Linked DNA regions of Homo sapiens. The protein of the gene in region 1 interacts with the protein of each later gene in a biochemical or structural test. Each region holds a gene or a part of one and is shown on either strand. Other genes may lie near its edges.

Region 1 (7,843 bases):
ATACTTTTTTTTTTTTTTTTTTTTGAGACAGGGTCTCCCTCCTGTTGCCCACATTGCCCAGGCTGGAGTGCAGTGGGGCAAACATGGCTTACTGCAGCCTTGACTTCCCAGGTTCAGGTGTTCCTCCCATGACAGCCTCCTGAGTAGCTGGGACTACAGGCATGCACCACCCACACCCATCTAATTTTCTGTATTTTTAGTAGAGGTGGGGTTTCACCATATTGCCCAAGCTGGTCTTGAACTCCTGGGTTCAAGAGATCCTCCTGCCTCAGCCTCCCAAAGTGCTGGAATAAAAGGCATGAGCCACTACGCCTGGCACACCCTTAATACTTTCTATTAACTAACTCAGCAGTATCTGTATCTTCTCATTCATCCAACCTAAAAACTTAGTATCTGCTAGACTCATCCCTCTCTTCATGCCTCACATCCACTATCAGTCACCAAATCCTACCTATTTTACTTCATATATACTTCTCGAATTTGTCACCTATTTTGTATCTCCACCTCAATTATCCTGGTTATCCTTTAGAAGGTTCCAGAAAATTAGTGTCCCTCTTTCCAGTCTTATCCTCCCCAAAATCATAGTTCATTCAGCTACCAGAGTAATCAATCTAAAAACAAACCTGACTAGACCAGGTGCCAGTTTAAAACCAGAGATTGCCACGGACTTCAAGATGGAGTCCAAGTTTAAGGCTAATAAGGCCTTTGGTCATTGGGACCCAGACTCATCTCTTTTTTTTTTTTTTTTTTTGACAGGGTCTCACTCTGCCACCCAGGCTACAGTGCAGTGGCACAATCACACTCACTGCAGCCTCAAGTGATCCCCCCAACTCAGCCTCCAGAGTAGCTAGGACTACAAGTGAGCACACCCATGCCCGGCTAATTTTTTCATTTTTTGTAGAGATGGCGTTTCACTATGTTGCCTAGGCTGGCTCCAACTCCTGGGTTCAAGGTCCTCCTGCCTTAGTCTCCCAAAAAACTGGAAATTAAAAGCGTGAGCCACTGCTCCTGGCCTCCTGCTCCTTTTCTTCCCTTTTTGAGGCCTAAAAGTATGGATTGGTGTTTCTCAAATTAGGATATGCAAGTATCTCTGATTAAAAATGTCAAGACTTATCACAGCTAGAAACGATCCCTCTTACTAAACTTACAACATCAATTTTGGTGAAGATTTTTTGAGAAAGACATTTGATATTAATTACAGAAGAGAATACAAAATTTGTATGACTGCTTAAGTCAAAATCCAACAAAGATGGCACTGATAGCACGCAGCTTTGCGCATTACCCTGGGCCTCTGAATGGGGACGATGCTGACACATCATCACAGATGAAAAGTCCAACACTATCAAACTCTGATCACTTCATTTGCCAATGAGGCACTGACTGTAACACTGAGAACTTAATTATGCCAGATGACAGCTGACACTTTACATTAATTCATTTTTTAACCATCTCCAAGACCGTATAGGACCTCATCTCTACTCCTCTCCTCCTCGTTCTTTCTACACTAGCCACATGGCATCCTTGTTTCTGGCATACAGTATCCCACTTTAGGGTCTTTCTTTGCCATTTCCTCTATCTAAAAACCTTTTCCCATAGAATATGGCTCCCTTTCTCAACTCCTTGAAGCATTTCCCCAAATGTTGCTTTCTTAATGAGGTCACCTTCCCATTTCCCTTATCAATTACCAACATTATTCTAGAGTAATAACGTCTATTTTTCTCTTTATATCATTTTCCTTACTTATTTATTGTGTTTATTATTTGGTTCCCTACCAAAATGTAAGTTGCATGCCAGTAGTATTTTTGTTTTTTTCACTGAGTCTATTGTGTCTAGAAAAGTGCTTAGCACATTGTAGATTCTCAATGAACTACTTATTGAATGAACAGTCCTATGAACCAGGTATCTCCCTTGGCCAGATTTTACCTAATGAAGATTCTGCAGCAGTGAGAACTTGCCTAGAGTCACATCGTCAAAGGTGGAGCTAGAATCTGTAAGCAACCTGGCTCTCTACTCTTTACCACTGCTGCATGTTACTGCATGGTGCCTCTCATTTATGTGGTGAATTTCAAAAGTACTATTTTGTATGTTTCCCTTACTAGACAGTTCCCTCGCAGCAGGGGATACTACTTCATCTCTGTTCCCTGACTGGCAGTTTCTAACCCATGTTACACGCTCTATAATTGTTTACGGAATGAATGAAAGCATAAATGAACACACAAGCTACCCAAAGATTTTTACATGAATGTCCCAACTGGTTAAATCATTTTTATCTTTCAGATTTAAACTTTTATAAAAAACAAAACCAAAACACCAAACCTGTCTTCAAAAATCTAGTAATTCAAAAAAATTCTTTTGAAGTGAAAAAACATGATTTCTGATAAACGATTTAATTAAATGGAAATGTACCCTATTCTTACAATTTCTACATCCTGGTTTTTAAAGCTTTATTCGACGTTAGGAAATATTAAGCAAAAAGCTCCAAAACCAGTAACTGACTCGCTTCATTACATACACATGCAATAATATTAAGCTATCTCCGATTTAAAAAACGCAAATAATAGTGCCATTTTCGTAGACATCGAGAATTATAAAACAATCAATCATGCCAGAGAGAAACAGACACCTTCACTTACAAAAACTGACGCTAACGAGTAACACCCTCCGGAGCAATACCTGGCCCAGGGTCAGCAGGAGGTAGTCTTCTCGAATAAATGTGACAAATACTTTGGTCAGGGCATGACTAATTTGCCACATAATGCCAATAGGTTGACTCTGAGAAACTACCATCCCCGGGCAGAAGGGGCGGGTGTAGGAGAGATTTAAAAACGAGGCCCCTCCCAGGCCGCCTCAAAATCTAGGGCCCAAGATTCTTCTCCTCAGAGCTCCTCACCGTGTCTAGACTAGGGGCAAGCGACCATTTCTCAGGTAGAGGATGACGCACAAACGAAAAACTGGCCATCCAACATGAAGGACGAGGAAGCGCACGAAATCAGAGCGCACAGCTGAGTGAGGAATCCCCCTTCTCCTAACCGATTCCTCTCCCGAGAAATCGCGAGATTTCTCGCCTTCACGGGATCTCAGGCCGAAACCTCGCGGCCTCTCAGACGAGGGTGGGTTAGCGGGGGCAGCTCCCAACCCCCGTCCTGGACCCACAAATCACCTCGACCCCTGGCCCACCCCGGCCGTCACCGAGAACGGTCCCCTAGGGTGCCTAGGGACTTCCGGAGCCCGACCGGATCCGGAAGCTTCTGAGAGCGAGGGGGTGGGGCCGAAAATCAAAAAAAGCGCGGCGAAAGCTAAAGGCCGGCGCACGCTGGGCGGTGGTGGTCCCTAAGCCGGGCCGCGGCCGGTGCAATGGACTCCACTGCCTGCTTGAAGTCCTTGCTCCTGACTGTCAGTCAGTACAAAGCCGTGAAGTCAGAGGCGAACGCCACTCAGCTTTTGCGGCACTTGGAGGTGAGAGGCTCTGGGGTAGAGGACAGATGGGGCTTCCCCTAGCAATTCTTATTTCACAGTGAGGCCGAGGAGTGGCGGCCCCAGCCTGGGAAAGAAAGGACAGTCCTTCGATCCCTCTGTTGTCTTTTCGTACTGGTAAAGGCTAGTGAGTGTCGGGGTTCCGCTGGCCGCAGCGAGAGGCAAGAGCGCTCACTGAAGGCTCTAGGAAAAGCGGGAGTGGGGCAAAAGGTTGGGAAGTTCAGGTTGTTTCGAGTAGGTAACGGAAAAAGCTCGGAACTTTATCTTTTCCTTTGCTTCTAGTTTTGGTTTTTCTACGAAACCAAGCCCTCAATACACAACTATTCTCAGTGACGGAAAGTCATGATTAAAACTTGGTTTTGCCCTTCGGTAATCTATAATTGAATTTGTTGCTTACTGCTCTTACTTGAACTCGGGTTGAACTCAAACTTGAAAAACATTATTTCAACATTAAGAAGCACTTCCCCTTCCTAGTAAGCGTAATCCTTTTTCTTTACCAAAATACATTGCTTACAGTTTTTTAATCTTAGAATGCTGAATTGCCTTTTTTTCTATTCTAGTGATATGTGTCCAGACGATTCCGTTTGTTTTAGGATCTTAATCTTCTGCTTTCATTTGTTTTGCATTTACGGAATTCAAACTAACATTGACCTCAGTTTAATTTTTTTAAAGCTCAATTAAGGCTTATTTTAACTCTCTGTGTCACAGCTTTCCTCTGTTAAGGTAGAATTGAACATAATTTTAAAATATATTGTATTATATTAACCCTATGATAAAAGACTAATGTGCCAAAAATTTGTAAAATATTACAGGAAAAAAATGATTTCCAGTAGTAGAGCAACAGCAGCTGTTAGTGAAGCTGCTGTTGTATTAAATGTGTCTGTCTTATCTTGAGCTTCACTGGTGCTCCTCTTTTCCCTACTTCAAGTGCCCATCTCCTAAGTACATTTGTTTTCTCTTTTTCATTCTTTATTTTAAGAAGTGCCTGCAAACCTAATAATTAAGGTGTTAGCTGTTAAATGCTTAAGGCTTTGCTTCTGAATTAGCATAGGCTCCAGAAGCCGCAGAATAAGCAGGGCAGTCCGTTTAATTTAAAAATCGGGAGTTAAGCATTTTGTATGCTATTCTGAAGCATTACCTTTCTTTGAATAAACAGGAAGGTTGTGCACTGAAAGAGATTTAAGGCACAGGGGCTTACACCTGTAATCCCAGCACTTTGGGAGGCCGAGGCGAGCGGATCACCTGAGGTCGGGAGTTTGAGACCAGCCTGACCAACATGCGAAACCCCGTCTCTACTAAAAATACAAAAATTACCTGGGCGTGGCGTCTCTCTGTTGTCCCAGCTACTCGGGAGGCTGAGGCTGGAGAATCGCTTGAACTCGGGAGGCTGAGGTTGCATAAGTAGAGATCGCTCCACTGCACTCCAACATGGGTGACAGAGTGAGACTCCGTCTCAAAAACAAAACAAAAAAAAAGAGAGACTTAAACAAAATATGGGATGGGGTCTTTACTGTATTCCTAAACTTTCAAGGGGTTTACATAAAACTCTTCTACCGTTGTTGCAAAGGTATGAAGAGCACTGGCTTCAGGTTACTACTAAAAAGGACTTTTTGTAATTAAGAGATAAAATACATACAGAGCATAAAGTGCATTAATCTTAAGTGAAGAGTTTGATAGTTTTTAATATATAGGTACCATAGCTACCATATTGGTAGCTAACATATAGGTAGAGTAGCTACCACCTGTATCATGATACAGAACATTTCTAGCCCCATAGGGTTTCTTCATTGCCTCTTCACATAAGGTTTGGGTAAGTAGACTCATACAATATGTACTCTTGTGTCTGGCCTTTTCCACTCAATAAAATCTGTGAAATTCATGTTGCACATGTACCGCTACTTCATTTTTTTTATTATTGATGTGTAGAATTCTATTGTATAAGTGTACCACAGTTTACATACACTTTCCTGTTGATAGGCATTTGGGTTGTTTACATTTCTGGGTGGAATTAAGAATAAAGCTGTTGTAGACATACATTTTTTGTGGATATATGCACACATTTATATACTTAGGAGTAGAATTGTTAGAGCATTGGAACATATGCCTATATGTTCCGTTTTAGTTGAAACTGCCAAACAATTTTCTGAAATATGCCATTTTATCTTCCCACTAGCAATATGTGAAATTTACCATCACTTATCCACACCAACCCTTGATGTTTTCATATTTCTTAATTTTAACCATTTTGGTTGACAGTATTTGTATTTTTAATGGTGAATGTCTTTGTACAGACTTCATGAGAGCGAGATCTGAGTATGCAAAGAGAGATGGGTATCATGTGAAAGGAGATTATTCATTCTTCTGTACTTCTCCCACACTTTTATAGCCCCATGCAGAGTGTAGGCTTTGAATGTTTGATGACTGGCAAAGCTGAGCTAATCTGATTTTTAATGATGATGTTTCATAACACTAATTTTGTGTAGTGATTAAAAGCATGAATTCAGGAACCAAGCTGCCTAGATATGAATTCCAGTTGTGCTTCTTTACTATCAGTGTGTACCTCAGTTTACTCATCTGCAAAACAAAATAGTGGTACCTACCTTATAGAGTTATTATGAAGATGAAAAGAGTTCACATATGTAAAGTGCCTAGATCGATGCCTAGGCCAGAGTAAGTGCTGTATAAGTATTAGTTATTATTAAAATAAATTATCTTTGTTTTAAGAGATTCAGTATAAGTAAAGGGAAAACTTGTAAAGCAATTTTTATTTTACCTAGTGCATATAATTATTACATGTTAGACAATTTATGTTAATGAGATACAGGACCAATCCTATAGAGAATCATTTTTAAAACAGCAAGTGTCTTATTCTGGAGAGCTAGATTTATAAATAAGCAACAGGGTAATGCCCACAGTATTTCCTACCCCAGAATATCTGTTACTGGCATCTGCACTTTCATATTTGGACTTATTTTTTCTTGTATAGACTTTTACTTTAGTAATGTTAAAACACTCCTTGGGAACAGATAATGTGAAACTCTTATCAGCAAAGCCTTAGAAGAAAAACTGATGTGGGTGAGAGAATAAAGGGAGGATACAGAAAGGAAAGATTAGAGGGATGCTAAAGCAGCCTGCTTAGGCTTGATCTTATTAAAATAAGTATTCAGGACAGAGTTAGTCTTATTCTAAGGTAACTAATGGTTTTGCCATCTTTGTAGAAAAGATATGCTTTGTAATAAATACATCCATAAAGTATGTTGAAAATTCATGCTTTGAGACAACTGCTTTTGGCCTTTAGTTCCAGCTTTACCTCCTCTCTTCTCTCTTTCACTCTGTGTGTGTGTGTGTGTATGTATGTGTCTGTGCATGCGTGTATGTGGCTTATAGATTACAAGAAAGTAAAAAAAACAATGGAATAATCAGAAATAAAATTTTTCAATGCCTTGCCTGGCTACTTAAAAAAAGATTCACTTTTCACTTCCTTCTTTAATCCCTTAACTTCTGAGCTCACCTATTGTCTTTGGGAAGAAGCAGAAGGAATAATCCCATAACTACCCTCTGGGCTTCATTTTTCATTCTCCTCCCTCAAAGTAAGTAGAATGTATTAGAATTTATTTGCATAGTAAATATATTGGTACTAGAGTGCAGATTTGTAGGCTATGCCTTCATCGCATGTTCAATGTAGTGTGAAGGAGAAATATTGCTAGGAACTCAAAAGTTTGCTAACTTAGGAAATAGAAATATAATGTACTATAGGATAGCATAATAGGCCGACCGAACTGAGATGGTATAAGAAACTAAGAAAAGCTTCCTGGTGGAAATTATTTTAAACTGAGATCCAAATGATTACTTTAGCTAGGGAGGGAGGGATTAGGTAATTGATGGGTACTCTAGGCAGGGGTGAATTTTTCACAGCATGTGTGAATTTTTTAAATTGGGAAGGTAGCAGTGGCACTTTGAGGGAACTGAGTTTTTTATTTGAAATGGAGAAGAGATGAAAATTGCCATCGCTTAACCAACACATTTTGATTACTATTTTATAGGTAATTTCTGGACAGAAACTCACACGACTATTTACATCAAATCAGATATTAACAAGTGAATGCTTGAGTTGCCTTGTAGAGCTACTTGAAGACCCCAACATAAGTGCTTCACTGATCTTAAGTATTATCGGTTTGCTGTCTCAACTAGGTAATGCATTTAATTTCTCCTTTTTAGTTTTTGGAAGATGTATGAACAATATTTTAAAGTGCAGGCTTAGTTATAGAATCTCTTAAAGAATGATTCACCTTCAAAGACTTCTCAGTCTAGTGTGCATTGTGAATCTTTTGACACTGAGGAAGTCATAGCTACCGATCAAAGAATGATC
Region 2 (7,024 bases), on another chromosome or scaffold:
CTTAAAGGGAACAGAGAGAATGTGCAGGGGCTTCCTGGAACAAGGCAGAGAGCCTGCTGAGAGGCTGGAGGGACAGGTTGGAGAGATAAGCTGTATCTCACAACATAATATTGAATAGGAAAAATAAAAGTGTGGTTCTATGCCTTGCTTTTATTTTTGTTTTAATTTTTTTTGAGACGTAGTCTTGTTCTATTGCCCAGGCTGGAGTGCAGTGGCATGATCTTGGCTCACTGCAATCTCCGCCTCCTGGTTCAAGCGATTCTCCTGCCTCAGCCTCCCGAGTAGCTGGGATTACAGGTGTGTGCCACCACGCCTGGCTAGTTTTTGTATTTTTAGTAGAGATGGGGTTTCGCCACGTTGCTCAGGCTGGTCTTGAACTCCTGACCTCAGGTGATTTGCCCACCTCAGCCTCCCAAAGTGCTGGGAATATAGGCCTGAGCCACTGCACCCAGCTGTGCCTTGCTTTTAAAAAGTCAACCTCACAAGCACAATCTGGAGAGATGCAGTTTAACTGAATATCACGGGTAAAGAAAAAAAAACACATTCACAAGACTTTGAGATCTCGGTAAACTGTAAGCGCAAAATGAGTGACAGATGTGCCATGACCACTAAAATTCTTATGTTGAGGTAGGTGTCATTGATCAGTTCTCCTGTCTTCAATGATGCCAGTGACCAGCTTGCTTTGCTCCGGGCTGTCGGGCTGTTGTGTGATTTTCCTTTCTGAATGTTACACTTTAACGGGTACACAGGTAAACTGAAGCACATTCGTAAGGGAGGTCCACAGGACGATACAGATACTCGTCAGTAAATTATAGAAGACACAGTTAAAGGAACTGGGGCTATTTTGCTTGGAGAAGGAAAGCCTCAACAGAGACCCAATAGCTGTCTTCGAGTATCTAAGGGGCTGTCAGGAGAAGAGGCTTTAGTCTAGTGCAGAATGACCTTGAGGGTATAGCCGGGACTATTAGGCATACTGCAGCTCAATACAAGTGAGAGCTTTAGAGTCATCAGAGCTACGTGGAGATGGGGGGCTGCCTCAGCACAAGGAACAACCTGTCACCTTGGGCATTCAAGTCCATGCAGCGTGTCTTGGCGTGCAGTGAGGCAGGACCTGGCACCAAGGGCTGCACTGGACATCAGACTAGCTGACTCCTAAACCCTTTCCAAACCTGAAATCCTGCCTTCAGCTCCCATGTTCGTCACAAGAATTAATGGGGATTAGTTATGTGAAAGTGCTTTGTAAACTCTAGAGTGTTCTATATATATAAAGGGTTATTACTATTTTTTCATTACCTTGGAGTACTTCGATTCTATCCTGATTGCCATTGTCTCTACTTATCCCTCAGTTCCCTTCAACCTCATAAAAATGTCTAAATTATAAATGCAAAATGTAATATTATGACTATGATTCAAAATTTCAAAATGCTTCACAAATAGTAAATGGTTTTTCATCTTTTACTAGTGAGGGGCAGGTCCTATATTCAGTTTGCTTCTCATGGTCCTGTGTCTGTGGTTTCAAGGGATGGAGTAGCTAAGGTCTTACAGATCACCTTACAGGGAAGAACTAATTAATATCAATAGCACCCTCACAAAAATCTCTGGTAACAAAAATATCTCTACATTAATAAGCAATACACAAAAAATACACAAATAAATAACCAATACACAATAAATTGATAAATAAACCTGAGTCTACTCTGATAGAATGTGACTTCTGTCCTTTACTCAGTGTCTTCTGGTGGCCCATCAATTCTCAGGCAATCAGAAGGTCTGTTATTTGGTGGCATAGGTGAACTTGTCACAAGGTATTATGACTTGGAAAAATTAATTGCCAGATAAAGCCCCAATTCTACTTAGGTGTTCAAAGTATTTTCCCCACCTAACTCCAGTATCATCTCTAATGAAAGTAACAACTTGACAACTTTGAAATATCATCTCCTTTCATTTTTTTTTCCAGTTTTTTCTCCCTTCCATTTTTGTTTTTTGTTCACCAGAGGACTTAACAGAGAGTGACACAACATAGGCAGGCTGAGAGAAGGAAACTAGGAAAACCAGGAGAGAGCAAACTGGATACAGACACTCCTAAAAAGTACAGTTAACTCAGTGACAAAGCAGCCCTCACACCAATGTGTTCTCTAAACTGTTTATGTGTTTTATTATTTGACTGACTGAAACCCAGAGCAAACAAGGGATTCAGAGGCTGGAATTTACATAGAACATGAGAGAAGGTAAGGCTCAGATGAGGAGAAATACCAAGAAGTTTTGACATACTTCTCTTGTTGATGCTACGGATCACTGGGAAGAAAATATTTTTTAAAAGAAGCTATTAGTTTATGCTCTGTATTCAGTCTGACACCTTTTATGTGTTTATATTCCATGAGTGAGGCTTTTTAATGTAGATAGTATTTCTTCACATGACGATGACACCTATGAAGAAAAATCTACTCTATACTTTCCTATATTGTGATTATAGTGCTCTAATTATAAACATTCAGGGAAAGGGCATGGTGGCTCATGCCTATTATCCTAGCACTTTGGGAGGCCAAGATGGGAGGATTGCTGGAGGCCAGAAGTTTGATACCAGCCTGGAGAACATGACAAGACCCCGTATCTACAAAAATTTAAAAATCAGCTGGGTGTGGTGGTGTGTGCACATAGTCTCAGCTACTGAGGAGACTGAGGCAGCAAGATCCCTTGAGTCCAGGAGTTTGAGACTATAATGAACTATGATGGTGCCAGGGTATTCTAGCTGGGGTGACAGAGTGAGACCCAGTCTCTAAAAGAAAAAAAAAAGTCAGGAGTGTGCAGGAATAAATAGAGTCACAAATCATTGGCTAATCTCTTATGCACCTCTTCCAAACTCCCCAATCCATCTTTGTGGAAAGCTTGCTGAAAAATAAGGCAATGGGGCCTGTATTGAACGAGCCACTTTATTGTATGGTTTGCCTCACATTAATCTAAGCTTGAAGGACAAGCCCTGGATGGGATACTTGGCCATCAGTAGACCTAATGGAGGCCTGTTAGTGTTTGGTAAAGGTTCATGCCTTATAAGCACTAGAAGAAAATGCATGGCCAGCAGAGTGTAAGTATTCAATGTGTTCAATATGATTATGGCTGCACCAAAGCAGACACAAGTTAAAGAAAGATATTCTCCTCATGGAGCAGAGGATGAATCTTGGAGAAGCATGGGCTTCAACAATGACAAGTCCTCTGGGGGACAAAGTAAAGACATACCTTGAGTTCCATAGCTGGTGTCTATTGCAGACCCATCCCATGAATCCACAGCACTGTCCACACTGGGCACCGTGGAGGGGTACATGTCGGAGAGCTTGCCTGGCTTCTGTGCTGGTGAGGAGTCCTCCTCCACATCCCCCAGGTCACTCAAATGGCTAGAAATAGGGAACTTCTTGGGGCTCGATGCTGACTGGGCTTTATAGACAGGAAAGGAGTTTAAGTATCAGAGTAAATTTAAATAAAAATATACCAAGATACTCCGTGGCTAGAGATTTGTTTCCCTAGAATTACACACAGACACTAGCACATTCTTTCAAGGAAGAAAATGCACTGGAAATCCTTAATTGTGGCTTTCAATTCACTACTCACCATCTGTCTGTTTCTTAATTTTCAAGGTGACAGTCTCTCCTGCCATCTGTAACAAATGGATGGCTTCACTCAGAGGCTTCCCTTTCAAGCTGCTGCTATTGATGGCTAGGATTCGGTCTCCTATGTGGATTGCGCCAGTTCTGAAAAGCCAAATAGTAATAGGAGAGGTAGAAATAATCCCTGTATGGTACTGAATATAAATTCCCTGACATACCTTATACATTCATCATAATAAAGACTTGGTAAGGATCTCCAGAAGTCCCTTCTTGCTTTCTCCTGGGCAATGTTATAAGATAACTGCATCTGTTGTGGATTACTTTTTAGTTTCCAATAAAATTTTAAAAATTGTTTTAATTAGTTATTAAAATGAACTGTGTTTTTTAATTCCAAGAAAGCTGAGTCATTGGTTAAGCACCCTAAAAATCCCAAGAAAATGAACAATGTTGAATGACAAATGTAGTGGATAGCATGGAGCATCCTTTCTTTCTACAGATTTTTTTTTTTTTTTTTTTTTTTTTTTGAGACAGAGCCTCACTGTGTCACCCAGGCTGGAGTCCAGTGGCACGATCTTGGCTCACTGCAACCTCCGCATCCCGGGTTCAAGCAATTCTCCAGCCTCAGCCTCCCAAGTAGCTGGGATTACAGGCAAGCACCACCATCCCCAGCTAATTTTTCTATTTTTAGTAGAGATGAGGTTTCCCCATTGGCCAGGCTGGTCTTGAACTGACCTCGTGATCCATCTACCTCGGCCTCCCAAAGTTCTGGGATTACAGGTGTGAGCCACCGCACCTGGCCTGTATGAGCTAATTTCTAAGGTACACTGCAGCTCCAACATTTTGCAATGCTGTGTCTCTATTTTGCTAGCCACTGTTTTCAACTGTTAGCAGGAACAATGCATTTGTGTATTCCTGAGCTAGGTTACTGGAGGGCAGATTTGCTTATAGGGTTTGTTATATGTCCAACAACACATCTCAGAAAGAAATGCAGTTTAGCGGAGGGTGGGGAGTGGGTGTGTGTGTACATCATTGCCAAAGGAAAAAATGGACATTCCAGCTTTTAAGACATTATTAAAATGGGTTATACACTTTGTTTCCCATAATCCTTGAAGATGATGTCTGTATCATCCTTTTCTGAAAACACAGCAGCTAAGTGTGGCACCTGTCAGGTAACAGAGGCTCAGCAAGTGTTTGCTGAATGAAATTGGACAAGCTGTTCAACCTCCCTGAACTTTAGTTTCCTCCTCTCAAAATGGACACAATACAAATCCGCCTTCAGTCAATTGTGGTCAGCTTATACATTTCAGAGAGTAGTATCAATGCTAAGCCCAAGACGTCTTTTACTGCCTGTAAGATGCCCCTCAGAGTCAAGTCGGAACTCTGCCTGAGAGTTCTCAGGCTCTAAGATCAATCCTTTGTGCAGATTTTTAAAAGCCAACAGATAACCACAGAGAGAGGAGCATGTTTTTATGTGGTTGTGAGGAAGGAAGCCCGTCTCAGACACAGGTAATTATAACAGTTACTTCAAATTTTACCTTTCAGCTAATCCCCCTTTAGTGAGGCTTGAAATGATTATAGGATCAAACGGCTCTTCAGTTCCTGAAATTGTGATGCCAAGGGGCCCCCCGTAGCGTTTAAGCTCCACGGTGTAAATAATTGCTCCGGAACTTTCTTGCTCATCTGTAATAAATGCCAAGGAATCATAATTGATTTCTTTGGAAAAAGCAAAAGAGTAAGATGCATAGATTCATACATAAAAGAATTCAAAACATCCTCGTCAAAGTATCATGTCACAGAAAATAATTATTTTGGGAAGTAGCATTTCCTTAGTAGGATCTTACATTCAAATACAGGGATATAATCATTGTCAGTGCCAGGGGAGAGGAACACTGCCTAATGACTTATGTTTTAAATGTGTGAGATCCGCCCAGCTGGGGCTGCAGGACCTTTCAACTGTGTCCATGTCTAGGACAGTGCTTACCTAGCATTTAGTAAGTATGCAGTAAATATCTGTGAAATAAACATATGGCTGAGGAGGCATTATAATATGAGAGGAGAGAGTCACTCAGTAACAAAGAAGACAGACATTGGGTCACGCTGTTTCCGTTTTAAGCTTTACATGCATGCTAACTTTTGATATAGAAAAGTGGATTTTGCGAAGGGTTGGAACAAATAACATATATATGGTTAAGTGGAACTTAGATAAGTAAACTTGAAGACAACAGCAAGAAATCTAGAATCTCTTAGATATCATTCCACTGACTGTCTTCTAATGTGAGTCCTATCAGTGAATTACGGATATTAAAGTGGAGGTTTGAATGATCATCTCTCCTCTTTCAATGGAGTAACAGCTGTTGTAAGCTATGTTTCAACAGCATAGACCAGCCTGCCACACTGTCATAAACTAATTTTGGCTATTCAACATTATTATAGTTGAAGACACTTGTGAATGTGCTCTGCCTAAAGCACTGGCCAGAAAGATATCATGGGCCGCCTTCAACGTGATGGGTATTGTGATGGTGTCAGAGTTGCAAATAAGAAGTCTCAGAATTCAAAGGTTTTATTTGCTTCTGACATGCTTAAAGTTCTTGGGCACTTCTTGTTTTATTCCTTGGGCCTGGGAGCTGTGAATGGTTAAGGAACTGTTTCATTTCTGCAACTAAGGATAAAATGAAATGGTTCAGTGGCTACTTTAGCAAAATAGTCAGCTTTTACAGTCAGACTACATCCTAGTGAAGCATTAACATGGCCACATTTTTGCAGTGAGCAGCTGTTCGTTTACGATATGAAATCCTAAAATAAGGAGGAAAACCAAAGCTTGAGTTAACAATTCAATTATTTGTGTTTGCAGTGAAGAATTATGATGAATATAAAATGAAAGGTCTATCAAGTCATTTGGGAAGCAATGTGTCCTCTCTCGCCAGCACTTACTTCACTTCTGGCCATAGATTGGGAGTTTTGAATGCAGCCATTACCTCCACTTTCTGAGTGCTCTACTCAACGTATTTACTCCACACATTCAGAACTAAAGACCATCCACCACACACTGCAATGCTTAAGTCAACATTTTAGGGCACAAAATCTTCAACATTGGGCTCAAATTTACATTAGCAGCTGAGAAGCTCCCATATCAAGCCTAAAACAGCTCTGTTTGCTGGTTCACAAGTTTCTTCTGGGCTGATGCTGAAGTTGTGGCCAATAGGCTGGTGATGATCTGCTAAGGGCTCCAGAGAGAAACATCAAGATAGAGGGTAACCAAATAATCAGCAGAGGTCAAAAGTCTAAATTTTCCTACAGTACGATATTTTGTCACCTTTCAGAGCTGGCTTTGACCTAAATGAACAGAGTACTATTGGATAGATTACATGTACTTTGCAGCCCTCATCATCAACAATATCCTGGATGAAATTCTGAATGAGTCATTT

The links.
Region 2: the proteins of DZIP3 (region 1) and GRIP1 form a complex in vitro, tested with the Homo sapiens proteins (one study listed by BioGRID).

What each region holds. Positions count from the first base shown.
Region 1 is NC_000003.12:108,584,887-108,592,729, reverse strand, and holds the start of DZIP3 (E3 ubiquitin-protein ligase DZIP3), read right to left. Parts: upstream 3,009-7,843; 5' UTR 2,891-3,008; exon of another isoform or gene 2,634-2,890; intron 1-2,633. Other genes in the region: protein CIP2A, read left to right, coding at 3,355-3,456, 7,518-7,665. UniProt on the Homo sapiens protein: E3 Ubiquitin ligase proteins mediate ubiquitination and subsequent proteasomal degradation of target proteins.
Region 2 is NC_000012.12:66,389,074-66,396,097, forward strand, and holds part of GRIP1 (glutamate receptor-interacting protein 1), read right to left. Parts: intron 5,280-7,024; coding exon 5,135-5,279; intron 3,744-5,134; coding exon 3,604-3,743; intron 3,430-3,603; coding exon 3,235-3,429; intron 1-3,234. UniProt on the Homo sapiens protein: May play a role as a localized scaffold for the assembly of a multiprotein signaling complex and as mediator of the trafficking of its binding partners at specific subcellular location in neurons.